Homo sapiens: one gene and its partners. The protein of the gene in region 1 interacts with the protein of each later gene in a biochemical or structural test. Each region holds a gene or a part of one and is shown in the gene's direction. Other genes may lie near its edges.

Evidence for each region.
Region 2: of the proteins of PRKCE (region 1) and NUMB, one has a biochemical effect on the other in vitro, tested with the Homo sapiens proteins (one study listed by BioGRID).
Region 3: of the proteins of PRKCE (region 1) and RASGRP3, one has a biochemical effect on the other in vitro, tested with the Homo sapiens proteins (one study listed by BioGRID).
Region 4: of the proteins of PRKCE (region 1) and PRKD1, one has a biochemical effect on the other in vitro, tested with the Homo sapiens proteins (one study listed by IntAct).

Annotation. Positions count from the first base shown.
Region 1 is NC_000002.12:45,647,102-45,654,681, forward strand, and holds the start of PRKCE (protein kinase C epsilon type), read left to right. Parts: upstream 1-4,573; 5' UTR 4,574-4,999; coding exon 5,000-5,347; intron 5,348-7,580.
Region 2 is NC_000014.9:73,274,697-73,280,555, reverse strand, and holds the end of NUMB (protein numb homolog), read left to right. Parts: intron 1-1,131; coding exon 1,132-1,275; intron 1,276-3,262; coding exon 3,263-3,978; 3' UTR 3,979-5,340; downstream 5,341-5,859. UniProt on the Homo sapiens protein: Regulates clathrin-mediated receptor endocytosis. Plays a role in the process of neurogenesis.
Region 3 is NC_000002.12:33,556,627-33,563,654, forward strand, and holds part of RASGRP3 (ras guanyl-releasing protein 3), read left to right. Parts: intron 1-1,584; coding exon 1,585-1,710; intron 1,711-2,045; coding exon 2,046-2,404; intron 2,405-6,102; coding exon 6,103-6,111; 3' UTR 6,112-7,028. UniProt on the Homo sapiens protein: Guanine nucleotide exchange factor (GEF) for Ras and Rap1.
Region 4 is NC_000014.9:29,924,823-29,931,922, reverse strand, and holds the start of PRKD1 (serine/threonine-protein kinase D1), read left to right. Parts: upstream 1-4,075; 5' UTR 4,076-4,410; coding exon 4,411-4,674; intron 4,675-4,826; exon of another isoform or gene 4,827-4,957; intron 4,958-7,100.

The DNA of each region.
Region 1 (7,580 bases):
GTTATGCTATTCTCCAAATGGCATCCTAGTGAGTAGGGCTCACAGTCACAGGCCCTGAGGAATAGGGGCACCAGGCCATCTCCTTCTGCATCCATCAGCAAGCTCGATAGGGCTGCCTCTGATCCCTCCACCTCTTTGCAGGTATTAAGTGAAGCTTGGCCTGAGTCACTGCAACAGAATATAGAGCAGAGATGGGGCCAGAATTCGGAGCTGAGATGGGGCCAAAATAAGAAGACATGGCAGGGCAGACAAAAGCCCACCACAGGAGTATAGGTGTGGGGCAAAGTTTGAAGTGGGGCTCAGGGTCGGGTGGGGGCTAGGCTGGGGCAGGACCAGCGGAGCTCTAGAAGGTTTCTGTGTCATTATACTGCTGCGCGTTCCATCCCATGGCCCAGGTGGTTGGATTCTGTTCAGCGGAGCATGTGTGGAATGTATGATAGACCCTGACCAGGCAGACCTTTGCAGAAGCCCATTAACATTCTATAAATGGCAACAACCAGCACAGCAACAGGGACATGAATATTAACGCGCTAGTCTACGGTTCTGGCTCCCCCTTCCCCGCTTCCTCCAGCTGATCTAAACAGTATCCACAGACAGTTTCAATTTTGATTATACAGAGTGTAAATCATCTTCAGACTTGGATCTTCTCTTTGTCTAATACCCTGTTTTGAGGTGAGCCTTCTGGAGGAAAATTACAGAAGAGAAAAATATTTATCCATCACAAAATCGCCTTTGTAAAGTATTAACTCTAGTTATGCTGCTTGCCCGCTGGAATGTTTGGTGTCTCTCCAGGAAAAAGTTGAGACCCATCTGCAGGCCCTCTGAGGTCTTAACTATCAGGTTCCTACTTACTTCATCTCCTGTTACTACCTGCCACAAGTGGGGCACACCTGGCCGCTTACCTGAAGAGTCATGGCTTTCCTACCTGTACACATTATACTTTTTGCAGCCAGTACCCTTCCCTTCCCTCTTTGCTGCTGGAAGAACTCCTGTTGGAAAGCCTAGACTCAGCTCAAAGGATTCTGCTGGTTGATGCCTTCCCAGGCTCCCCAGGCAAAGGGGTGATCCTTCTTCTGTGCCACTCCCATCCATAGACCTATTGCAACACTGATCGCCCTGTCCTGGCCACATCTGTTGTTCTATTCTTTTCTCATAAGCCTTAATTTTGAAAGGAGAAAGGCTCCATTTTGGTCATCTTTGTTAAATTATTGTATCATTTTCTTCCTTCTCACAAAGATTATGAAATAACTAGGCCATAGTTGGAATCCAAAGGTCATTTTACTCAATGTATATGCTAACCACTGTCTTATCCTTTGGGATTGGAGACAGGGGCTGAGGGAAGGATGAAGCTGGCAATAATTTCCTATTGGAATTTTACCGTCTAAGCCCCCTCCTTGGGATTTTCTTTTCACATGAAACCTGGAGCAGGGGGTTATTTTGGACCTGGCATCTCCATGATGTCCCTGGGGAATTCAACTTTTCATTTGGCCAAGTTTGAGAGTAGGAAGGCGAGAGATTTATTTAGAAATAAGGAGGTAATAAGGGCAGGAAACTAGCAGTGTTTGCATGCAGACTACCAGCATTCTCCCTTTTTATGTAAACATTAATCCAATACAAAACATGTATTTTGTTTGACAAAGTCTTTTATTACCCTTGCTCCAAAAGAGTTGCTGTAATGGAAAGGAGACAAGCATTGGTCGCCCTTGAGAATTGCAGTCTGGTGATTTACACGGAGTAACAGTCTGCTGAGCCAGCATGCTAGGAAATGGTGCTGGAAGTTTGTAGGTTGTTTTAAGACAGTCACTGAGATGGTAACAGACCCTATTTAATATATTTGGGGGCTGGGCATGGTGGCTCCTGCCTGTACAAGACTTACCCAAAGCAAGTAATGAGAACATATGAAGCACCAATTAGTCAAGGATCCCTAACTCCATGAAATCCTTGACTTTCCAGACTTCCCAACAGGATCAGGACTAGGGTGAGATGAGTGACGCACTCGGCTCAGGTACAAAATTTAACAGGTGCCAATAAACTCAGTAGTATAAATATTTTAGTGCAATATTTAAAATTATTTAAAATGTGGATATTGTGTCCATTCTGGATTCTCACATTTTTATTTTTAAAAAATTGTATTAAATCTTTATCTTGATTACGTTTATTGGTACCCTTTACATTTTGCCTCTGAAAAGTATCTCACTCATCTCACTTTGGTGCTGGCTCTGCTTCCCAAATGCATTTTCAGAAGATCAAGCCATATTTGCCACTGCCTTCCATCACATGCCCTGGAAAGGGGGAAAGAGGCTTCATGAGAATAGCAGAGTGGAAGGAAGAAGCAAAAGGGAAAAAAGTAATAATCAAAGAAATAAAAATTAAACAGCAATGAGATACCCCTGCTTGTGCTTTGTCAAACGGACATATTTTAAGATATCGTATCTCCAGCTGGGGGAGTGACAGGGTAAGACAACCATTGAAATCCTGGCTTTTTACATCGGAGCTACCTAGATCATACGGAAGACTGAATCTTAGCACCATCTCTACCCAGCTGCCCTGTTCAACAGGGCAGGCTGCGAGAAATTACTGTATTAGGAAGCTCCAGAGCGGTTGCAGGCAAAGGCTTTGCCTGTTCTTAGGAGATGGCCCTAGAACTTTTCGGATCATTTTTGGGACGTGTTTGCTGCACTTGATATCCTGTTTTTCCAGGGGACTGCCTCCTTCCTCGCCTTTAAGCCTTTTTAGGCTTTTAAGCCGCAGGCAATGATAACCTTTACCCACTGAGGAAAAAGTGATCGGGAGGCGCGTTTTAAATTTTGGTTTACACTAACCAGACCCGCCAGATGAACACTCAGCTTACCACAATACCTACAAATTCCCAGACTTGACTTGGCAGAAGGGCGAGGGCGGAGGTTTTCTTTCCCCATTTGCATAATCCCCAGCTCCCCGGCAGCGGAGCCGACCTCTTCACCGCCGCCGTCTTCGCGGGTGTCCCAGCTGGGCCGCGCCCCGGGGCCCAGCGCTCCGGCCCTGCCCTCCCAGGTTCCCAGTCTCGGGCGCGGGGCAGTCCCTCGCCGGCCGCCGGCCCGGTCCCGGCTCCCAGCCGAGGAAATTTTTCCCCAGCAGCCCAGGGCTCTCCTCACGTGACCAGCCGCGGCGGTAGCTTCCAGCGAGAGTTTAAAGGTTACGGAGGAAATTAGCAAGGACACAGCCACTCGCCCCCCGGAGGGCGCGCCCCATTTTCCCGCAGCCCGGACGGCGGCTGTCAGCGCGCTGATCAGTGCCGAAGTCCCCCAAAGGGGCACCGATAAGGACCAGCGCAAACAGGAACAGTCACTTTGCAAAAAATAAGCAGACCACAAACCAAGCCGGGGCTCTACCGAGCTTTCACTTGTCAACAAGTTCTCGCAGCCTGCGAAGTCCAGGACAGATCCCAAAGGGGAGAATGTCCCCAAAGAAAGGCAAGAGAGAAGAACAGAGTTTAAAACTTCACCCGAGCCATGCTTGTCCCTCCCCCTTCCCCCTCCCCCACCGCCGTGGATCACAGCGTCCCGGGACAGAGTGACAGATGGGCCAGAACTCCGCAGACTGCTCCTGCCCGCCGCGGCCCGAGTGGGGGTGGGCAAGGGAAGGGTCCCGAGGCCTCTAGGGCAACAGGGCCCCCTCCACTCCCCCATCCCCGGCTCTAAAAGACAGTGTTGGCCGCAGGGTCCCCGAGAGATACGCGGCCCGGCGGGGCCCATCCATGGCCATCCACGGCCCCCGGCACGCGCATCCAGCCCAGCGCCGCCGCACCCCGGGGTCCCGCGCGGGGTCCCCGCCCCCCGGCTGACCCGCCCGCCGCTGCGACCCCGGGCAGCCTCGCCAGCTCTCCACCGTTGTCTCCTCGGCTCACTTTTTCCGTATTGCTCCCCCAACCGGCAAAACTTTCTATTTCCCCAAACACTGCCGTGCGCGCGCGCGCGTGCACACACACACACTCACACACACACACTCACACACACTGACGTCTTTTGCGCATTTCCTGCATTAGAGGGAGGGAGACTCGCTCGCACACCGACAGAGGGAGAGGAGACCGCGGGGGAGCGCGGGCTGGCGGGCGGCGAGCGAGCGGCAGCCGAGAGCGGGGACGCGGGGAGCGCGGAGGGCGGGCGCCGGCGCCCAGGAGGTGGGGCCGCGCTGAGTCGCAGTCCCTGCCCCGCCGCCGCGCTGCGCACCGCCCGGTGCTGGCCTGCGCCCCCGAGCCGGATCGGCGGCCGCCCGGACTCCGAGCCCGCGCGGATGTGAGATTCCGGGCTCCTGGCGCCTCCCGATCGCCGGCTCCGGCGCGGCGCTGCTTCGCCCAGGAGGCGGCGGCCCCGGCTGGCCGTGGGGCTTGTGGATTTTTAAAAATTTGGCTCCGAGGAGGACCATTTCCTCTCGACATGCATCCCTCCGGATAGACTGAACATCCCTCCGTTCACCCCCCCGCCCCGCGCGGTCAGAGGCAGGCGCTGAGTGTGCGAAGAGGATCCGGGTTGAAATCTGCGCCCCCGGTTCTCGTCCCCGCCCCGTCCCACCGCCCCATCCCCCTCCCGGAGTCGAAATTTCCCGGGATTATGTTTCGGAAAGGTAGGTAAGCGCCGGGCGCGGCGCCCGCTTTCCCGCAGTCCGGAGCCGGAGAGCCAGCGAGGCGGCGAGGCAGCCCCCGCGGCTTGCAGCGGAGCCGACAGCTCGTCTTCTCTTCTGGAGGTGCAGCTGGTGGTCGGGGGGAGAGACTTGCTCCAAACACGGACATCCCCCAGCTCTCCCCCCTCCCTGTTTTCCGTTAGGAACCCGGCGAGGAAATACATGCACTGGCTGAGAATCGCCCGCGCCAGGGCGCAACGCCACAAGGTGTAGGGAGTGTGCGGGGTGGGGCGAAAGGGGACCCAAGAGTCCCTGTGGCTCGGAGTGCCGGGCCGTCGGTTCTTCATTCCTGCCCTCGGGGCAGACGGAGTGACCCCGGCCCCCACTCCCCGCCCCGACCATGGTAGTGTTCAATGGCCTTCTTAAGATCAAAATCTGCGAGGCCGTGAGCTTGAAGCCCACAGCCTGGTCGCTGCGCCATGCGGTGGGACCCCGGCCGCAGACTTTCCTTCTCGACCCCTACATTGCCCTCAATGTGGACGACTCGCGCATCGGCCAAACGGCCACCAAGCAGAAGACCAACAGCCCGGCCTGGCACGACGAGTTCGTCACCGATGTGTGCAACGGACGCAAGATCGAGCTGGCTGTCTTTCACGATGCCCCCATAGGCTACGACGACTTCGTGGCCAACTGCACCATCCAGTTTGAGGAGCTGCTGCAGAACGGGAGCCGCCACTTCGAGGACTGGGTGAGTGCGGCGCCTCCCCGTCATTCCGGGAACCCGGTTGTGGGGTCCCGGGGAAAGACTCGCTGGTCTTGATCGTAGGGCTCCGGGACTTATTGACGACTGGGGTGTGTGTGCCTGTAAGTCTCAGTTTCCTTGGGGAGGTACACTTCACTTCATAGTTGGGGAGAAACAGGCATTGGCGAGGAAGATGAGACTTGGAAAGAGGATGTGGCCCTCTGCTCCCTCTGTGCCCTCCAGTTGGTGGGTGCTGCGGGAGGTTTGCAAACTGGGAGAGCCTGGGCCACTGGTGCTGAAGGTTGGCCGAGGACCCGGCTTTCTTCCGCAGGCGCGTGGTGGGCTGGCTGTGTGTGATTGTGTGTGGGTGGGTCCCTCCGTCCTTGGAAAGGCACGTGGAGCCTTTGACTGAAGGCTTCTTGCACGTCCTGGCTTTGTCCTGCTTAGCCGAGCGAGGAGTTGCTTTATTTTTCCCTCCGAGAGGAAGCTGGCTTGTTTCTATTCTCTTGCATGGTGGTTAGCTCATCTTCTGACATACAAGTAGAAAAAATGTGTTCTCCTCCAGGATGTCTCCTCTATGGTCCCAGAAACATCAGTCGAGCTTGTTTTGTCCAATTCATTGCCCATCCATGCAGAATGAATGTTGCATTTTAAGAAGGGTTCTGCTTGTGGGTAATTGGAAGTCAGTGCTTTGAATCTTATTTAAAGTTATATTGTTTCTCTGTTTTGATTGTCAAGATACTGTGCAATAAAAGACGATTTCTAAGTATGAGATTGAGTTGTTAATTGATTCCATTATTAAACTATTAAGGATTTGGAAAGAGGTCTTGTCTCAATCTACTATAAACCAAATGCATCCAGTCTTGGCACTTGGACAAGCAGAGAGAAGCAAACCTTCATTTTGCTTTTTGTGTTTGTTTTTGGGTTGTTTTTTTTTTTTTTTTTTTTTTTTTCTCTCTTCTTGGAAGGAAGGTATTAATTTAGGATGTGGATTTTTGTGTTTTCAGGTTTGTTACATGTTTCCAGCAAGTACAAGCGTTCCTCTGGAGGTATATGTTTTCAGGGTTCTTTGGTCTACACAAAAAGTGAGAGAGCTATCTAAGCCTCAAAAGTGGTGTAGAGCAATTGCTTTCTATTGAAAACCAGCTAACTTCATGAATGTCCTAGAGGTCAGAGGTTGCACATGGATCACTTTGGCATATCACCTTACATATTTTTTTCAAGGACACGGAGTTTTAGGGAAAAATAAGAGAGAGCCTGTTGTTTTTGTGCTCATGGCTGTGATGTAGTCTGCCTGAAACCATGGTTACGGTTTCACAGGGAAGCTCCAACAAGCCACATGCGTAGAACTCTAGATTTGTGGTTTGCACTTTGGAAAGCAGGCAAACCTTTATGGAATCCCAGAGAACTCCATGCCATTCTATTCTACTTCACAGATGTCCCTCATCTCTGCTTCCTTCAGCCCCCACAACAGAGCTCCCACTCATTCCCCATTTCTTTTCCATGCATGGCCTTTGGGCCCTTTCCTCATGAATGCAGTGCATATGAGAGGGGGAGTGGAAGGGATAACTAATTTCAGAGGTAGACCTTGACTCTGAAAACCTGTGATTTTGGAGTTGTTGTTTTTGGACAGGAAGGGGGTGGAAAAAACTTGACGCTGGTAGCTAGGAGATGGGAGCCTTTTGCAGTGTATGCAGATGAGGGGCTTGGACAGTGGGGCAGAGAGCAGGGATGAGGAGCAGCAGGTCTGCATTTATCCATAGAACAGATGTTGGTTGGAGGGAGAGTGTCTTTGTATCTCTGGTGATGCTTCACTGGGGCACACCCCAAACTCTGGGAGCTTCAGGACACTGTCCCCACCTTCATCCCTCCTAGTGAAGCATGCAGTGGGAACTTGTTTGGTTATCATCCTCTAAGGTTCTCAAATTCATGTTGGATTTGGCCCTAGGCCAGATCATCTAGTGCACAGGCAAGTTTTACAGATGAGGACATTGAGTTCCAGAGAAGCTAGTTGGGGACCGAGGGTCACATGACAAGCAAAGGTGGGTTGGAAGTAGGGCCCTCACCGCCTGTTGCCCATGGCTTGTCTGATGGGGAGCCGAGCCTGCCCATCTGGCCTCCCAGCCTATTCTCCCTGCAGATCCATGTGCTGTGTCCCTGACATTTTTATTGTACTTGATAACTTCATCTCTTTTGCCTTATAGCAACTGTGAATTAGGTATGGCAGGTATTGGACAAA
Region 2 (5,859 bases), on another chromosome or scaffold:
AGGTATCTGGAGTAAAAGGAACAAGGGTTAGCAGATTTTAACAAGGGGAGATGAGGAAAGAATAGTAGGTATGTTGTGATATTGTAAACATCATAGAGGGGGAAAAAAATCTTTGTTAAAAAATGTTCTGTGAGTTACCAGGAGAGTTAAAAAAAAAAAACCTTCAAAAAAAGTTGAAATTAATTGTGTAGCAAATTAGAAATCTATCAAGCAAATGAAAACATACCAACTTCGATTTCTCATCTGTAATAGGGGGATAATACCAGACTCGTAGGGTTTTTGAGATAATTAAATGAAATGATGCATGTAAAATATTAGCTTAATGACTAGCACATAATAACGAATCATATATACATTTTAACTTTTGAGGAGGAAACAAAGAGTAATTTTTTTTTGTTTGAGATGGAGTCTTACTCTGTTGCCCAGGCTGGAGTGCAGTGGTGTGATCTAGGCTCATTGCAACCTCCGCCTCCCGGGTTCAAGTGATTCTCCTGCCTCAGCCTCCCTAGTAGCTAGGTTTACAAGTGCACACTGCCACACCCAGCTAATTTTTGTATTTTTAGTAGAGACGGGGTTTCGCCACGTTGGCCAGGCTGGTCTCGAACTCCTGACCTCAGGTGATCCACCCACCTCGGCCTCCCAAAGTGCTGGGATTACAGGCGTGAGCCACCACACCTGGCCTATTTTTAACCAGTATTATTGTTAACATAATCTGACCTTTTGGAAAAGTGAAGAAGAGGGAAATGCTATACCTACTTCATTATGCCGAAGGCTAAGCTATATCTAGAATAGTTAGATATTTTTTGCTGCTCCTAAGACGCAGCAGCTCTGTTCACCTTAATTTGAAATTGTTTTCGTAGGTTTCATTTCCCCACTCCCCATGCACATATTTTCCTAGAACAGTTATTTGACTTTATCTATACAACCATTTAAAAATTACAATCTCTGATTGCTTCTTTGCCTAATGGTATGTACATCCAATGCAAGATATCATGGTTTTCCCAAACATCAACTCTTCTCTCTTATCCATTCCACCAGTATTGTACATTCACCTGACTGACACAGCTCCAAGGGGTCACTTGTACACCCTGCATGAATTAACTCCATTGATGTTGTCTGCTCCCGTTGTAGCTAATGGCACTGACTCAGCCTTCCATGTGCTTGCTAAGCCAGCCCATACTGCTCTAGCACCCGTAGCAATGCCTGTGCGTGAAACCAACCCTTGGGCCCATGCCCCTGATGCTGCTAACAAGGAAATTGCAGCCACATGTTCGGGTAAGGTGGCCACAGATGGTGTTGAGGATTCTGGGATCAGATAAGTGACCCTGGTTCTAAAACTCAGCCAGTTAGCTGAGTGGGAACTAGGGAGGAATCCTTTCAGGAAAACTATGTTCCCTCCTAGAAATAAGTTGCTTACATAAGAAAGGATGGTGAAGGAGAACAAAAGAGATCAGACTGATAGTCATTAGGACTGTGGAACAGGACTGTGGAACAGAGCCCCACCCATAGAGCTTTTATAAAATACAGATTCCGGCTGGGTGTGTTGGCACATGCCTGTAATCCCAGCACTTTGGGAGGCTGAGGTGGGTGGATCACGAGGTCAGGAGATGGAGACCATCCTGGCCAACATGGTGAAACCATCTCTACTAAAAATACAAAAATTAGCCAGGCGCGGTGGCATGCGCATATAGTCCCAGCTACTCAGGAGGCCGAGGCAGGAGAATCGCTTGAACCTGGGAGACAGAGTTTGCCGTGAGCCAAGATTGCGCCACTGCACTCCAGCCTGGGCAACAGAGCAATACTCTGTCTCAAAAAAAAAAAAAAAAAAAAAAAAGATTCCAGGGCCCCACCTCAGAGAATCCATCACCGGATTTGGTGATGTGCAGACATTCCTGTAGAAAGAGGGGGCCCTGCTCCTACAATAGGAGGCCTACAAAAAGTGCTAGAAAAAGCACTTCATTTTTGCTTTTTTGTACTTTCTAGTTTTGTATAAAAAACATCTATTAATTATAAAACCAAAAAGTTTTTTTTTTTTGGAGGTGGAGTATTGTTCTGTCACCCAGGCTGGAATGCAGTGGCATGATCTTGGCTCACTGCAACCTCCATCTCTCAGGTTCAAGCAACTCTCCTGCCTCAGCCTCCCGAGTAGCTGGGACTACAGGTGCATGCCACCATGCCCAACCAATTTTTGTATTTTTAGTAGAAATGGGGTGTCACCATGTTGGCCAGGCTGTTTTCGAACTCCTGACCTCGTGATCCACCCGCCTTGGCCTCCAAAAGTGCCGGGATTACAGGTGTGAGCCACCACACCCGGCCTCAAAAGGTTTTAACATAGTAATAAAGGCAGTTCACCAAAAAGACAACATATTTCTGGAAGCCAGGCAGAGGCCAGCAAGATATGGCCAGGTCACTGGTTATTTTCTTTTTGCTCTGTTAGAGCAGAAGATGAATTGCCTTGGGCCCTTTAGAGGATGTGCAAGCTAGGTGTTTTTTTTTTTTTTTTTTTTTTTGAGACGGAGTCTCGCTGTGTCACTAGGCTGGAGTATCTTGGTTCACTGCACCCTCTGCCTCTCAGGTTCAAGCAACTCTCTTGCCTCAGCCTCCCGAGTAGCTGGGACTACAGATGCATACCACCACGCCCAGCTAATTTTTGTATTTTTAGTAGAGACGGGGTTTCACCATGTTGGCCAGGATAGTCTCGATCTCTTGACCTCAGGTGATCTGCCCACCTCGGCCTCCCAAAGTGCTGGGATTACAGGCATAAGCCACTGCACGTGGCCTTTTTTTTTTTTTAAGACAGAATTCTCACTGTGTTGCCCAGGCCAGAGTGCAGTGGCACAGTCATAGCTCACTGCAGCCTCCAGCTCTTGGGCTCAAGTAGTCCTCCTGCCTCAGCCTCACAAGTAGCTGGGATTACAGGTGTGAGCTACCACAACCAGCTAGTTTCTGTATTGTGGATGAGCCATAGCAACAGCGAGGGGTTTCTGACATCAGTCAGCTGCCGTGGTTTAATGCATTTGAGCCATATCTAGACAGTGCTTCAGTGTGGCTGACACAGCAGCATGGTCTTGACAAGTTTTCTTCATCCTACCACAAAATCCCAGTTGGTAATAGAGACTTTACTCCTACCTATCAAAACCACAAAATGTCCCATTAGGGGGGGACATGTTGTACATGTTAGGATCATTCAAATAACCAAGATTATAAGGTGAGGAAAGATGCCCCTAACTGATTCTTTTGTCTCTCATCTTGTTGGTTCCAGGGACCGAGTGGGGTCAATCTTCTGGTGCTGCCTCTCCAGGTCTCTTCCAGGCCGGTCATAGACGTACTCCCTCTGAGGCCGACCGATGGTTAGAAGAGGTGTCTAAGAGCGTCCGGGCTCAGCAGCCCCAGGCCTCAGCTGCTCCTCTGCAGCCAGTTCTCCAGCCTCCTCCACCCACTGCCATCTCCCAGCCAGCATCACCTTTCCAAGGGAATGCATTCCTCACCTCTCAGCCTGTGCCAGTGGGTGTGGTCCCAGCCCTGCAACCAGCCTTTGTCCCTGCCCAGTCCTATCCTGTGGCCAATGGAATGCCCTATCCAGCCCCTAATGTGCCTGTGGTGGGCATCACTCCCTCCCAGATGGTGGCCAACGTATTTGGCACTGCAGGCCACCCTCAGGCTGCCCATCCCCATCAGTCACCCAGCCTGGTCAGGCAGCAGACATTCCCTCACTACGAGGCAAGCAGTGCTACCACCAGTCCCTTCTTTAAGCCTCCTGCTCAGCACCTCAACGGTTCTGCAGCTTTCAATGGTGTAGATGATGGCAGGTTGGCCTCAGCAGACAGGCATACAGAGGTTCCTACAGGCACCTGCCCAGTGGATCCTTTTGAAGCCCAGTGGGCTGCATTAGAAAATAAGTCCAAGCAGCGTACTAATCCCTCCCCTACCAACCCTTTCTCCAGTGACTTACAGAAGACGTTTGAAATTGAACTTTAAGCAATCATTATGGCTATGTATCTTGTCCATACCAGACAGGGAGCAGGGGGTAGCGGTCAAAGGAGCAAAACAGACTTTGTCTCCTGATTAGTACTCTTTTCACTAATCCCAAAGGTCCCAAGGAACAAGTCCAGGCCCAGAGTACTGTGAGGGGTGATTTTGAAAGACATGGGAAAAAGCATTCCTAGAGAAAAGCTGCCTTGCAATTAGGCTAAAGAAGTCAAGGAAATGTTGCTTTCTGTACTCCCTCTTCCCTTACCCCCTTACAAATCTCTGGCAACAGAGAGGCAAAGTATCTGAACAAGAATCTATATTCCAAGCACATTTACTGAAATGTAAAACACAACAGGAAGCAAAGCAATCTCCCTTTGTTTTTCAGGCCATTCACCTGCCTCCTGTCAGTAGTGGCCTGTATTAGAGATCAAGAAGAGTGGTTTGTGCTCAGGCTGGGGAACAGAGAGGCACGCTATGCTGCCAGAATTCCCAGGAGGGCATATCAGCAACTGCCCAGCAGAGCTATATTTTGGGGGAGAAGTTGAGCTTCCATTTTGAGTAACAGAATAAATATTATATATATCAAAAGCCAAAATCTTTATTTTTATGCATTTAGAATATTTTAAATAGTTCTCAGATATTAAGAAGTTGTATGAGTTGTAAGTAATCTTGCCAAAGGTAAAGGGGCTAGTTGTAAGAAATTGTACATAAGATTGATTTATCATTGATGCCTACTGAAATAAAAAGAGGAAAGGCTGGAAGCTGCAGACAGGATCCCTAGCTTGTTTTCTGTCAGTCATTCATTGTAAGTAGCACATTGCAACAACAATCATGCTTATGACCAATACAGTCACTAGGTTGTAGTTTTTTTTAAATAAAGGAAAAGCAGTATTGTCCTGGTTTTAAACCTATGATGGAATTCTAATGTCATTATTTTAATGGAATCAATCGAAATATGCTCTATAGAGAATATATCTTTTATATATTGCTGCAGTTTCCTTATGTTAATCCTTTAACACTAAGGTAACATGACATAATCATACCATAGAAGGGAACACAGGTTACCATATTGGTTTGTAATATGGGTCTTGGTGGGTTTTGTTTTATCCTTTAAATTTTGTTCCCATGAGTTTTGTGGGGATGGGGATTCTGGTTTTATTAGCTTTGTGTGTGTCCTCTTCCCCCAAACCCCCTTTTGGTGAGAACATCCCCTTGACAGTTGCAGCCTCTTGACCTCGGATAACAATAAGAGAGCTCATCTCATTTTTACTTTTGAACGTTGGCCTTACAATCAAATGTAAGTTATATATATTTGTACTGATGAAAATTTATAATCTGCTTTAACAAAAATAAATGTTCATGGTAGAAGCTTTTGCCCATGAAGGGCTGTTCTTTCCCCTTTCCTTTATTAGTAAATGAATTTATTTTTCGTTCTTTTGGTCTTACTCTCCATTCTACTGCTGCTGTAAATCCCTAGTTTAGTGACTAGAAAAATACCCTTAAGATTCATATTTTCATTCATACTTTAATCCTGAGTGTATCTCTAAAGTCAGATTCTTGCTGCTCAAAGTGTGGTCTGTAACAGCAGCATGGACTTCACCTAGGAGCTGGTTAGAAATGCAGAATCTCAGCGGGGTGGGGCAGTGCTTCTCAACCTGGGCTATGCAATAGAATCACCTGAGGATATCTTTTTAAAATCCTAACGCCTGGCCTATATTCCAGACCAATTAAATCAAAATTTTAGTGGGGCAGGGGGACCCCCCAGGTTGTGTTTTTTTTTTTTAAGCTCGCAATATGGTAAAGTTGAGAACCACTGGCCTAGAATGAGTTTTACCTCTAATCTTAGCCCACTATTCTGTGACTGGTTCTATTAGAACTAGTTAGCTG
Region 3 (7,028 bases), about 12 Mb from region 1:
GATGAATGTTGTTCCCCAGGGATGCCTTTTTTCTCCAGTCGTTTTCCAGTATTTCGTCCTCATTTTGCATGAACAAAAAGCTTCCCAAATCTCAATGGAAGCCACTGTTTAGTGCTCAGAGGGACCTTCCCATTAGTGCTTCTCTATCACTTGCCTTGGTCTAACTTAGATTTTTACTTTCAAGCAGCAAAGATACTGCAAGATCTTATTGCCCAGCAGTGAGTCATTAGTTTTATTCTGGTTTCTATCCTCATACCCTAAAATACACACACACACACACACACACACACACACACACACACGCAATTTTATAAAGATGAAAATCTATTACACCTTTGGATTATCTCTTGTATTTTCTTAATGGCACATAAAGTGAAAAAAAAAATGAATTGAAATAGATTGAATACATCATTAAGACTATTTGAAACAAGGTCACTTAGGGGAAAATGGGTACTGGAAATAGTTAGAAAGGTCCTCCTTGATGGTAGGAGAGAAATGATCATCTCTATTCAATGATTCTCAGTGAAGTGCAGGACCCTCATCATAGGAAATAATTGTGAACCACCATCTGAAGTGGCCACATTTTTCTACCCCAAGTAGTAATTAACATTCTACTGTCTTATCTAAAACATCCTAATGGGCAATTCACAGACTCTGCTGCACGCTGTTTCAAAGCCATAAGCAAATATAGAACATATTTACTGAGCATATGCCCATCTTGTGTTCTGTTGGAAGCAGAAGATATAATCACTGGCCCTGAAAGGTTTTGGAAAATGAAGAAGAGTAAAAAAATCCAGACAAGGCCGGGCACGGTGGCTCACGCCTGTAATCCCAGCACTTTGGGAGGCTGAGGTGGGTGGATCACGAGGTCAGGAGATCGAGACCATCCTGGCTAACATGGTGAAACCCCGTCTCTACTAAAAAATACAAAAAATTAGCCAGGTGTGGTGGCGGGCACCTGTAGTCCCAGCTACTCGGGAGGCTGAGGCAGGAGAATGGTGTGAACCCGGGAGGCGGAGCTTGCAGTGAGCCGAGATCCCGCCACTGCACTCCAGCCTGGGCAATAGAGCGAGACTCCATCTCGAAAAAAAAAAAAAAAATCCAGACAAGTGCTGAGTGGAGGAACACCTCACAGTAAATGATCAGAGGCAGTTGGCCTGGGAGAGACTAGAAGCTGAGGCTTCTTGCCCTAATGCTGGCATAGGCTCTCTTTGTGGGGATTCCGTCTAAGCCTGGGAAAGACTCTCAACCCCATTTGATTTGCATTTAGTTTTGGGCAAAGGCAACTGACCTCTCAGGCTGGACTCTATTTACTCCCTAGGCACAATTGCTCATTAGGTCCTCAATTGCATACAGAACCAAGCTGAGCAAATCTAAGAGAATTTTCGGAACCTCAGGAAGGCAAGTGCAGACCAATGGCCTCTTTCCAGATCCTAGACACACCCCATGGGCCTGAGCTCAACTCTGAAATTCAACACAGAAACTGGGGTGGGGGAGGGGAGGGCTGACAAATCAAGTGCCACCCTGGAAACTGAATCAACATCAGACACACTAATCATCTGCGACACCCTTGGAATTTTTCAGACTGTGGAGCCAATTGTCACAAACAGTGCAAAGACCTCCTGGTTCTGGCCTGCAGGAGATTTGCCCGGGCGCCCTCCTTGAGCAGTGGTCATGGGTCACTGCCTGGAAGCCCCTCGCTGCCCCCAGGTAATGCCCTCTGCTTTCTTTGCTGCCATGGTCTCTTTCTGCTTGCCTCCTCACACTTGGACCTCATTTAGGTTCTGGGTCTAAACCCGGTCAGTCACTCTAAACGCTAAGGCCTTCTTTAGGGTGAGCAGCAGTAGCTAAACCCTTGAATCATCCTTGCTTCTCTCTGCTTTCTAGTCTCAGGAATATGTAACTTGCCTGCGGCTAATTGAGTTCTGTCCCTTGTCGGTTCCTCTAGAATGTTGCATGCCAGACTCGTGCTGTTTGCACTAACCTTGATGCTTTGCTGTCAAGCAGTCAGATGTCAAATAATCACCACCCTTTTTCACTTCCAGCGCAGGATGAGGTGTTTGAGTTCCCTGGAGTCACTGCTGGACACAGGGATTTAGACAGCAGAGCCATCACACTGGTTACAGGCTCTTCTCGCAAGATCTCTGTGAGGCTACAGAGGGCCACCACCAGCCAGGCCACCCAGACTGAACCTGTCTGGTCAGAGGCTGGCTGGGGGGACTCGGGGTCCCACACCTTCCCTAAAATGAAATCCAAGTTCCATGACAAAGCAGCAAAGGACAAAGGCTTTGCCAAATGGGAAAATGAGAAGCCCAGGGTGCATGCTGGTGTGGATGTTGTAGACCGGGGCACGGAGTTTGAACTTGACCAGGATGAAGGAGAAGAGACCAGACAGGATGGTGAGGTAAGTGCTAGGTCAACCCACAAAGAAAACCAGAAGAAGGAGGCTGAAAGTGCTGAGATGAGCGTTACAGAGGGTCTGGGGGGCAGCCTGGTAGTTCTGAAAGCAGAATGGTTGGGAATGAAGACATGTATCACTTTTAGTCTTGCCACTGCCTAGCTATGTGACCCTGGACATATGTTTCTTCTTTATGGATCTCAGTATCATGATTTAAAAAAATTGAACGAGATCAAGTTCTGAAACCTATTGAAGGCTGTCATGTGTGCGTACTGAAATGATGCCCCAGAAACCCATGACTATATATCCAAAATACCAGTACACGATACAGATCAGCTTGGTTTTCCAAGCTAGAACCAGGGCCCAGACTCAAGAAAGGCAGTAGAAGCAAAAGACTTTTAGATAAAGGAGAATTGGAAACTTTTCATTCTGCTCAAAAGAAGCTTTTGACAGCATCATGGAAAAGGGGGTGGTGAGAATCAGAGATACGAGGCCCTTGAGGATCTCTAAACCAGGCTCTGCCTCCGCATGAGCAAAATCATGCAAAGCAAAGTAGGATGCAGATGGAATTTGTTAGAGTATGCTGACACAGAAATTGATTCAAGATGGAGTTAGATAAATTTATTAGTTAACAGTCTATAGTGTATTAAGAGAAAGGATTTGAGAAAATTGGCATGATATTCCTAACATTTAAAGCAATGTCATGGAGGACAGCCATTGCCACCCTGTCGAATTGTTCTCATAAACAGAATATTGGGTTAGGCAGAGATCCTACTGGATCAAGCCAGTGCTCTTTAGTCTTATGGGTGGTCCTCCACATTCCACTCTTCAGGAGACCTAAACACACGTCTCCATACATTTCCCATGATGAGAAAAACTCCAGTGACCTTTAGCCAGAAATTCCCCTAGTTCCTTCCTCACTGAAGGCAGTGCATAAGGAGGCCACCCATTATCTCTGGTCATACAAGGTTTATTGTAAGTTTCTGCTGAAACACTTTTTTTGTTTCTATAACATCCACTTTTAAAAACAGCTTTGAGATGTAATTCATATGCCATGAAACTGACCCATTTAAAAGTATGCAATTTAGTATACTTTCAGTATGCTTTTAGTATACTCACAAAGTTGTGCAACCATCACTACAATCTAATTTTAGAACATTTTCATTATTCCAAAAAGAAATCCTACACCCACGAGCAGTCATTCTCCCCCAACTCACCCCAGCCAACTAATTTATTTTCTGTCTCTATAGATTTGCAATGCCCACTTTATTTTTAACATTTCCCCCACTGATCATCTTGACAACTGTATCAGTCCTATCCCCCTACTTCTTTTACTGGCCTAGCACAGTTCAAGCTGGGAATATAAACGAGAATAAGAGAAAGATCATGATTAGGTGTCAACAGCTCTTAACCCGAGGTCTATTTAATGGCTTTAGGGTGTTCATGACAGTACTTTATACTCCGTGTAAAATATACATGGACATATGGTCACTTCTGGGAAGAGGAGTCCATGCATTAAACAAACAGATTCTCCTGGGGGGTATGTGATCCAAAAAAGCAAAGAATCATTGTGCAAGAAGATTTTCTGGATTCCCTGTCTAGTCACCCCATACACTAACTCAGCCTGCAGAGGCTGTTTCCGTGGGTGCTGTAGCTGCCCCTGGAATGTCAGAAAAAGAGCTTCTCCAGGTAGATGGTAGGACGCCTACCAGAGTGCTCAGGATGGCGCCCACCTTGTGGGCATCTCTGAATTCAGAGGAGAACCTGCTTTTGTTTAACAAATAGTGAAATTGGCCATGAGCTCATTACTATTGGCCTCTCACAGTTCAAGTTACTTAAAAACTGTGCTTCTGAGTTAGGAGAAATTCACAGCCTGTTGGGTGTAAGACAATCAAATAGGTAAGATATCCTGATCATTAATCTCTATAAGGAAATATAAACAAGTATCTGGGTTTTTAAAAAAATTTAATTTTGTTTCCTGGAAATTGAACTTTTATATTCAAATGCTCTCTTATCCTTTCTGTGTTCTTATCTCTTTTCTTTCTTTTTTTTTTTTCTTTGAGACGGAGTCTCACTCTGTCACCCAGGGTGGAGTGCAGTGGCACAATCTTAGCTCACTGCAACCTCTGCCTCCCAGGTTCAAGCGATTCTCCTGCCTCAGCCTCCCAAGTAGCTGGGACTGCAGGCATGTGCCACCATGCCCGGCTGATTTTTGCATTTTCAATAGAGACAGGGTTTCACCATGCTGGCCAGGCTGGTCCCAAACTCCTGACCTCAGGTATTCTACCTGCCTCAAACTCCCAAAGTGCTAGGATTACAGACGTAAGCCATCGCGCCCAGCTGTGTTTTTATCTCTTAAAGCACAGGGATGGTTCACTGACCACGAGTATTTAATTTCATCTGTGCTAATTAATGAAGGACGTATGCTCTTATATGAAATGCATATATATGGTATACAGTTCCAGTACCATTCAAATCAGTAACAAATGAGATGTTTGCTCTGTTTAGGGAATAAGGAAGAAGGGAAAAAAAATGACAAAATTATACCCAGCGGTTGAATATGTAGACAAAGGAGTTTGCAAATTTAAGATTTTTTTTTTTTCTGCCAGGCAAGACCAATAAATGGCATTAGGAGCACTGACCTACACATTTATTATTTAGTATCAGATGATGTTTGTGAGTCCTGTAGTTAAAGACTTTAGAACACAGAAAAGGTACGTGTGTTTGTAATCTGTGTATTTCCTCCAACGGAGTTCCAGGATTTACGCTCATTTTAAAATATAAGGGTACGAACATTTTCTGTGGCAGTGTATGTCATCTCCCCAATGACCACTACATGTCAGAACAGTTCAAGATTACTCTCTTGGCAGTAAGAATACATGTATTTCCTTTAAACTTCTTCTTTTGTTTTCCTTTATCTTCTACTAAATTAAATTTAGTCAACAAATACTTATCATAAAAGGGTTGGGAAATGCTGACTAAATAAAATGGAATATGTTTATGAATATATGTAATATACATAGTCATACATATGTACATATACATATGTAGATTTACAGATTTTCTCAGTGCCCTCTTGCACTAATTTACACTGTGGATTTCTAAGAGGGAAACCTTTTAACAAGGACCATTTCAAGGGACTAATGATTTGTGGTACACCCTTTAAGGTCAACATCCTAGTTGGACTCCATATTGGAGTCTTTAAGAGTTCATATGCTGGGTGAACTACATGATCTCTCTCTCTTTTTTTTTTTTTTTTTTCTGAGACAAGATCTCACTGTCCCCCTGGCAGGACTGCAGTGGTACAGTCATAGCTCACCACAGCCTCGAACTCCTGGGCTCAAGTGATCCTCCCATCTCAGCCTCCCAAGTAGCTGGGACTGCAGGCATATGCCACCATACCCAGCTGGTTTTTATTTATTTTTTTGTAGAGACGGGGTCTTGCTATATTTACCAGGCTGGTCTTGAACTCCTGGCCTCAAGTGATCCTCCCACCTCAGCCTCCCAAAGCTCTGGGATTATAGGTGTGAGCCACTGCACCCAGCTACCTACATGATCTCCTAATTCCCACTAAATCCTGAGACTACAAGGTACTGATCATTTCAGATGTTCCCTCAAAGTCATCTGAAAAACTGCTTTCTAGGAACACTCTTATTTTGTTATATGAGATCCAGCCATGCAATAGGTTCCAATTTGTGTTTCAGGATGGCTGACTTCAGGCTGCGGAAACTGAAGGCAATAATGTTGGCTTTTGGAAGGGGCAAGACGAGAAACTCTGAAGAAAGCTCTGACTCTCAGGAAGTTATCTGGAAAGATACCTGGATGTTTACTGCCTTGGGACACTGTGGGATCTCCATGTTTGGACTATGGGACAGAGAATTGACCCTAACTAACTAACTATGAACTATTTATTTCCTCCTCCCCTACCCCTAGTTAAGTGCCACAAAGACTGTGTTATGTAGTCAGTACTTTTTTCTCATGTATCTTTCTCTAGACCATTTATATACGGGTGAAATGAAAGCTTTTTTGCATGTACTTGATACTCAGTCTGTAAACTCAGACTTCGCTTTTTTTGTGAGACTATCCTTTCAATATTTTTATAAACTTTTGTGTGTGCTGTGGCAGGGAACAGTTAACAAGGAGTTTATTTAGAGGGGTTTTTTTCATTTTTTGTTTTTCTTGTTTTGTTTTGTTTTGTTTTGTTCTTCTTGGTGTGCTTTTTGGATGGGACCAGAACTTAACATTTTCCTGAGGACTAGGAAGCTCATCAGACACTGGAATGCAGTGATTCTTCTAATGATGGTCAACTGCAAGGAGAAACTGTTTACATCCTTCCCACTACACAGTTGCTATGATATGTAACAAGTCACACATGTATATATCACACAAGTCTTACCAATTCTGCGTCACTAGGAAGCTATAGCATGGTCGTGAAAGCTCTCCTAATACTTACTTAAATAGCCATGGAAGAAAATTATGCTTGTCCCTTCTGACTGGGTTAAGCCATCTTTCTTAAGATTCCTGAAGTAGAAATAGCAATTAAGAAATTAATTCAAGTTTTGACGGTTAACATTTAGCAGAAAAACAAACCATTGAATAAGCTACTAGGTGAAATGCAAAACAACCATCA
Region 4 (7,100 bases), on another chromosome or scaffold:
GAACATACAACTATCTTTTGAAGACAACCTGACAAGATTAACATTCATCGTTGGAAATTGTTGGAAGTACCTCCACGTAACTCTGCATACCCTTGCAGGTCCACATCACTTTTATGTGGGCATGAAACTTTTTTTTTCTTTCTTTCTTTTTTTTTTTTTTTAATTTGAGATGGAGTCTTAACACTGTTGCCCGGGCTGGAGTGCAATGGCGTGATCTCAGCTCACTGCAACCTCCGCCTCCTGGGTTCAAGCAATTATCCTGCCTCAGCCTGCCAAGTAGCTGGGATTACAGGTGCCCGCCACCATGCCCGGCTAATTTTTTGTATTTTTAGTAGAGACAGGGTTTCACTATGTTGGCCAGGCTGGTCTTGAACTCCTGACCTCGTGATCCGCCCACCTCAGCCTCCCAAAGTGCTGGGATTACAGGCGTGAGCCTAGGCCTAGGGCATGAAACTTTCTTACCCTTGCAGGTCCACATCACTTTTATGTGGAGTCTTCATTAGGGCATGAAACTTTCTTTACAAAGTGGTGCTCCCAGTCACTGCTAGAAGTCCCTTATTCTTGTCTTGTTAGCCAGGATTAAAATAATGAAAGCCCATTTCATGAATATAATTAATATAAGCTACTATTCACTTTCTATATCCTCTTTTCTTTTCCAAGATTAAAACATCCAGAAGAGATTAAAACCAGATTTTCCCAAATCCTTCAAGTTTTCTATGTTCAATTTCAAAGTTGCCAGAGATATACACCAGGTTTATTATAGATATTCTCTGTTTATTCATTCCCTTGTCATTCAGCAAAAGTGAGCAGCAGTTGGAAAACTGTTAGATTTCAGGTGCCTACAATAGAAATTGCAATAACCAACTCCATGGGAATTTTCTGTTTGCGATGGGGAGGTCCAGTAGATACACGATTTTTTTCTTCTTGTTTTTCTTTATTCACTCTTTTGCATTCAGTAATATTTCACCGTCTTAAAAGTAATGTTAATTCTCTAGGGCATCTTTAGAATTCCTTCTCCTGTTTCCTTATCAATTATTTCCAACACCCTACATAAATCTTTCATACTATTGATAAATCATAGTCTAACAAGAAGTTATTCATACTTTTTTTAAAATTCCTGTAAGTCTCATAACTGATAAGTACTTTAAGCTCTTTCTCTCTAGAGCTCTCATCTAATCTCACATTGAAATGCCTTCTGCACACTGAGAAGATTTCTAAATGTATTTCTGACCCTCTTCTCTTTTCTGGATGCTGGACCCATATATCCAGCTCTAGATGCTATTTCTAAGTTGAATATCTAGCAGCATATCAAACTCAACATGGTCAAAGTAGAAATCTTATTTCTCCCTGAACTTGCTCACTCTCTATCTTCTGTGTCAATTATTGGCACCACCATCAGTCCAATTGCTCAGAAACTTGGGAGTCTTTTGTGACACCCTTGTTCTCTCACTCCTTGTAAATCTCTGACTCATTCAGCAAGAACTTCCGCCAACATAGAGCCTGCAGTTTCCCATTTCTTAGCATCTCTTCTACAACCATAGGAGTCTAACCCGTGTTTCTAGACTCAAAAACAGCAATAGTCTCCTACCCAGTGTCTCCACTTTTACTCTTTTCTCTTATATTCCACACAAAATCCAGAGTAATCTTTTAAAACATGCTAATTAATCTTATTATTCCCTGCTTTAAAACCTTCCAATGGGTTGGTAGTGCACTGAGAATTGAAATAAAAACACTTTACCATGGCTTTCAAGACTCCTGGTAACCTGGTTTCTATTAGCTCTCTGACCTCATCTCACGCACTTGCCCCTCTTTTCCTATGCCTTGAAAATGTTAAATATATTTCTGTGTTAGAGTCTTTGCACTCTCTGTTACCTATGCCTACAATGTTATTCCCCTAGTTCTTCTGAAGTCTACCCTTTCTATCATCCAGATTTTGGCTCAAATGTAAACTTCTCAGTGAAGTCTTCTCTCATTCCCAGTCCAGAGCAGTGCCCATTTCTTCATCCCTCCTCCCACAAGTCACTGTCTTCGCCATTGGGTTTAAAAAATTCATTGCAATTATGAATATTAGAAATAATATCATTTGTGGTTTTACTCCATCCCCCCTCCCCTTTTCACTGTGATCTTTTTAGGGCAAGGACCACCTGTCTTCACAGCTGTGCAACTGGTGCCAGTACAGTGCCTGGAACAGAGAAGTCCTCAACATGCAGTTGTGATATCTATAAAACATGAATGTCTTCAGCGCTCTTGAATCTCAAGTGAAACTAGCTTTTTGTAAGTCTCTTGTAAACTGACCAGCAAGCTTTTTTTTGATAATAGAAAACTGTGGAATATTAACTTTATTCTGATTTCAAAGAAAATGAAGTATAGTTTCGGACATTTAAAAGAAAAAAACCTCCTTCAGAATTCAGAAAGGCATTTCATCAAGAAAAATTCCACCATTTTCCTAGATTAGCTGAGTCTAGAACATTAGGAAAATTACCTACCTGTATCAGGGATGAAGAGGACCACCTCATAAGTAACTATGCAGGGAAAATGTAAACACAGGTAGACCTTATCAAACCATCACATTCAGAGAATAAATTCAAGTCTCTTCAATGCAGTTGTGCAGCCTTGCAGTGTTTGGGGCTCCATTACTGACCCTGGGAACACGGTTCTAAAGGAAGCTACCTTGCAATATCTTGGGCCACAACCAGAAGTTAAGACAATAAATAAATAAATAAATAAATAAATAAATAAATAAATAAAACAGAACAAAATAAGCTATACAAAATACAAAATGTTTGTTTAGGTATGTTTGTGTGTACTTACGCAGAGGAAGGGGAAAGTCTAGGGAAGTGGCGAAGAGAGAGGCAAAGCTGACTACATTATCTGCGTGGCCCATTGCAAAATACAAATGTGAGACTCCTTGATTAAAAATTATGAAGAAGAACAAAACAGCGACAGTAGACTATTGTCCCAGAATATTAAACCAAACACGGGTCTTATGAGCTGTGGCCTATACAACTGCATAGTCGCACACCCATGAAGCCCACCCTGGTTGGAGGGGAGAATTATAATTCATCTCCAGCGAATGTAAAGCAATCCCCACCCTGCCAAAACAACAGTAAAAATAAACGGCGATCCAAATTAGGGCAGGTTGTGCCCAATCCTGATGGCTGTGCTTGTGATGACGGTGGCGGTGCTGAGGTGGACTTGGGGGCACTGCTCCTATATAACAGACTTTAGATTGATAGAGGAGAAGGAAAATAGTTTCTGAAGCTCCAAAGTAGAAACTTCAGGCGCAAAGAATAAGGTAAAGGAAAGGAGACCGCATCAGACCTCCCTCCTGCCCTTGGGCAGTCAATGCCTTTTCTTTCCAAAGCGACCCTCTCCTTAGATCACTGTGTATATCCGGTGCCTTAGGAGCTGGGGTGGAGTACGTAGGTTTGGCTGTAAGGGCGCGTCAGAGCGACAAAAAGGGTAGAGACAAGTTTAAACCCCTTTCTGTGGAGTGGCTTCCTACCCTCTTTGGCCACAAACCCCAGGGCTCCCAGAGGGGCCTGGATGTAAGTGGGTTCCAGATGACCCATCCTCCCTTGACCCTCCGAAGGTAAGACCCAAGGGGAACCGCTGTGATCAGCATTCTTGAATTCCTCAAAAGTCACCTCACTTGTAGAAGTGCGTAGTCCTCCAGCATTTGGAAGAGGTGGCAGGGACCTTGGGGCCCGGGAAGTTCGCGACCCCAGGAAGCGGGTCTGAGGCGGTGCACCCCATCCACTCCGTCCGCAGTCGGGGCGGGGCAGCGGGACCCGAGAGGACGGGAATCCCTGCAGGGAGGGAAGGGCCGCGCCTGCCGAGGCGGCTCCGAGCCCCGCCACTCGGTCCTATCCCGGCTCGCGGAGGCTCAGGCCCCGGGAACTGCGGGCGGAGGGGGCGGCGACCGGGCACCCTGCGGCCACTGCGGCCGCTGCTCCTGCGACTCCCGCGCCCGCCGGGTGGTGGCTCCCCAGTGCCCGCCCCCAGCTCCCCTTCCCCGCCCCTCACGCCCCCTTCCCGCCCCGGCCCCCGCCCGGCGCTCGGGCCGCGCCGACCCGTCGCCCCGTCCTTCCGAGCGCGCCAGGCGGCAGATTCTTGGCGGCGGCGGCGCCTCCCCAGTGCCGGCGGCCCCGAGCCGGCTGCCGCGTTCCGGGCCTCAGAGTCCTCCCGCCTCGGCCATTTTCCCTCCTCCCCATCTCCTCCCCTTAGTCCCCTCCCCTCCCGATCCTCATCCCCTTGCCCTCCCCCAGCCCAGGGACTTTTCCGGAAAGTTTTTATTTTCCGTCTGGGCTCTCGGAGAAAGAAGCTCCTGGCTCAGCGGCTGCAAAACTTTCCTGCTGCCGCGCCGCCAGCCCCCGCCCTCCGCTGCCCGGCCCTGCGCCCCGCCGAGCGATGAGCGCCCCTCCGGTCCTGCGGCCGCCCAGTCCGCTGCTGCCCGTGGCGGCGGCAGCTGCCGCAGCGGCCGCCGCACTGGTCCCAGGGTCCGGGCCCGGGCCCGCGCCGTTCTTGGCTCCTGTCGCGGCCCCGGTCGGGGGCATCTCGTTCCATCTGCAGATCGGCCTGAGCCGTGAGCCGGTGCTGCTGCTGCAGGACTCGTCCGGGGACTACAGCCTGGCGCACGTCCGCGAGATGGCTTGCTCCATTGTCGACCAGAAGGTAAGTCGCCGCACCGCTGCCAGCCCGGCGCCTCCCCGCGGCGCAGGGGGCGCTGCCCGGCTGGCCCTCTCCGCGCCAACTTTCCGGCTCCCGGGGCTCGGCTGGCCGCCAGCCTCGCCGGCGCTCTGGAAGCGGCTGGCCCCGCCGCGGCTGGACGCCTGCAACCCGAGGCGCTGCGCTCGCTGTTGCTCATCCTCCTCTCGCCCCATCTTCCTCTATTCACCGATTTCTCTCCAGTCCGCCGCCTCCTCACCCATTTCCATCCTTCTCATGACATTTCCAGGTATCTTGCCCTTTCCTCGCCGCGCCCCTCCTTGTCCTTGAGACTTCCCAGTTTTCTTCCCCTCTCTCCCCTACGGACCCTGGACCAGCGCATTCCTGGTGCAGGAATCCTCCTTCCTGCACCAGAGTGCCCCCGGAATGACCTGGAGACAAGGAATTTCTCACCTGTCAGATAAGCTTTTAAGAGAGTGTGATTGACTCGGCCAGTTGTCAAAACAACTGACCAGGAGTGCAGGTACCCAAGGCCTTGTCATCTTTTAGTTCCACTTCTGTATGAGCATGGAAACACATTTTCCAACGACAAAACCTGAAAGTTGCGACCTTCCTATTTTTCATTCCCGGGATGCTGATAGTAGGACGTTGAAGTGGTGGGGGTGATGTCCAGGAACACCCCGAGGCTGGCTGTGTCCTTAAGTTTGAGGCTGTGGGGCTCTGGACAGCGGCCACTGAAGGCAGGTTAGAAGGGTCATTATCCGGGGCCAGGCCACCCCCAGAGGAGACTCAGCCCACCCACCACTGTTTACAGTAGCAATTTGGATTTTCAGGTTGCCTCTGGAGCCATCCAGATGGATGTTGCATGGAAGGGGGTGATACAGACGTGAGGCAGAGGGGGCCATGGCGCCAGTCTTCTTAGTGTAAACAGCCAGCGTTTCAGGAGTGGAGACAGAGGTCTCTAAAGGTGCTGAATTTTTCAGCCCTGGAGGACTGGCTAGCACTCCTTTTGCTTTCTAATTATCACTTGAATAATCATGAATTGCTTTCTTTAAATTATTTGTAACAGAGTTTGCTAAATCTTAAGGGTTGTGAATTGCAGCACTGAGCACAGGAATGTTAAAAGCTCCAGGTGGAAAAAAATCACTGATCTAGAAAGTTGTGAAAGTTCTAGACTAAGGTAACAATGAGTGCCAGGAATTTATTTATGGAAATTTACTTTTATATTACGGGTAATGTCAACTGTTTGCAACTTCCAAGAAAATGACACGTTTTGTCTAATGCTGATGTAAGTCATATCATGCTCCTTTTCCACATCAGTATTGTGGAATGTCTATTGTGGGTCAGCAGGAGCACTCCTAGGCACTGTGAAAGCCTTGTATACAATCCTCTCCATTTGGATGCAGACCAGTTAATGAAACAGCAATGCTTCATAAGCACGTATACAATGTAAAACAAAATTTCTCAAAAAGCAAAGGTAATTCTGTACAATTTTAACTTTTCTAAATTCTAAAGCAAGTGAAGTAGTGTCAGAGAATATTCAAATTGGGTCAAAGTAATATTGATAGACTTTGTTTTGACCAGCTTGAATTCTCCCTCCACCCCGCCCCCCACTTCCTCCTGGAGTTCAGAATGGGGAGACTGATGCCTAGTTCAAGAGGTTTGGTAGTGGGATTTTAAATGGAGGGTGAATTCCAGGTGTCTCAGAAGCTACCAAGGGGCGTGTTACATGGAGAGAGTGAGACGAGAGCAGAGGGAGAGGGACAGCAAGCACCTATGGAATGCAGCAGGCCTGCAGGTGGTGGCCTGGGTATTTAAGGGAAGTACAGTTATGAAAAGGCCTTGAATTAAACTCAAATTGCTAGAAGCCTCAGTAATCTTTTCATAGCGACATCATACCAAGGACATCTGAAAGATGGATTTGCTGTATGGAGGTTTTAGAATGCCAAAAATGTTATGGCAGAAAGAGCACCGAAGTTCAGTCATGAGCTAGTTGGAACATGAGTCAAGACTTGGGGGAGAGACTGGGAGAAATACTGGAAAGGGAAAATCATCAGCCCTGATTGGTGACTGATTTATAAGGGGAATCCTTTCCTTTTGTATTTATTCTAGTAGTTTCTTCTCTCTCTCAAAGAAGTTTGAAAAGTTTGACTGTTTGGAATAGTTAAGGTAAAGATCTCACTTTTTTTTTAGGTTATAAAAAAGTTGGGGTTAGATTTATAGATGTGAACTTGAGGGTTATTTATATACAGAATACTGTAAATAAATATATACTGGATAGTGTTTCTGGACAGAGGACTTTTTCAATTTCTCTGTCATTTGTCATCTCTTTCAGAATATATTATTATCCCAGCAGAAACAAAATTAAGAGAGCTGAAGGTCCATCACAGGATACAGGATCTCTGTGTGTTGTGACAGTAGGAATGGCAGAG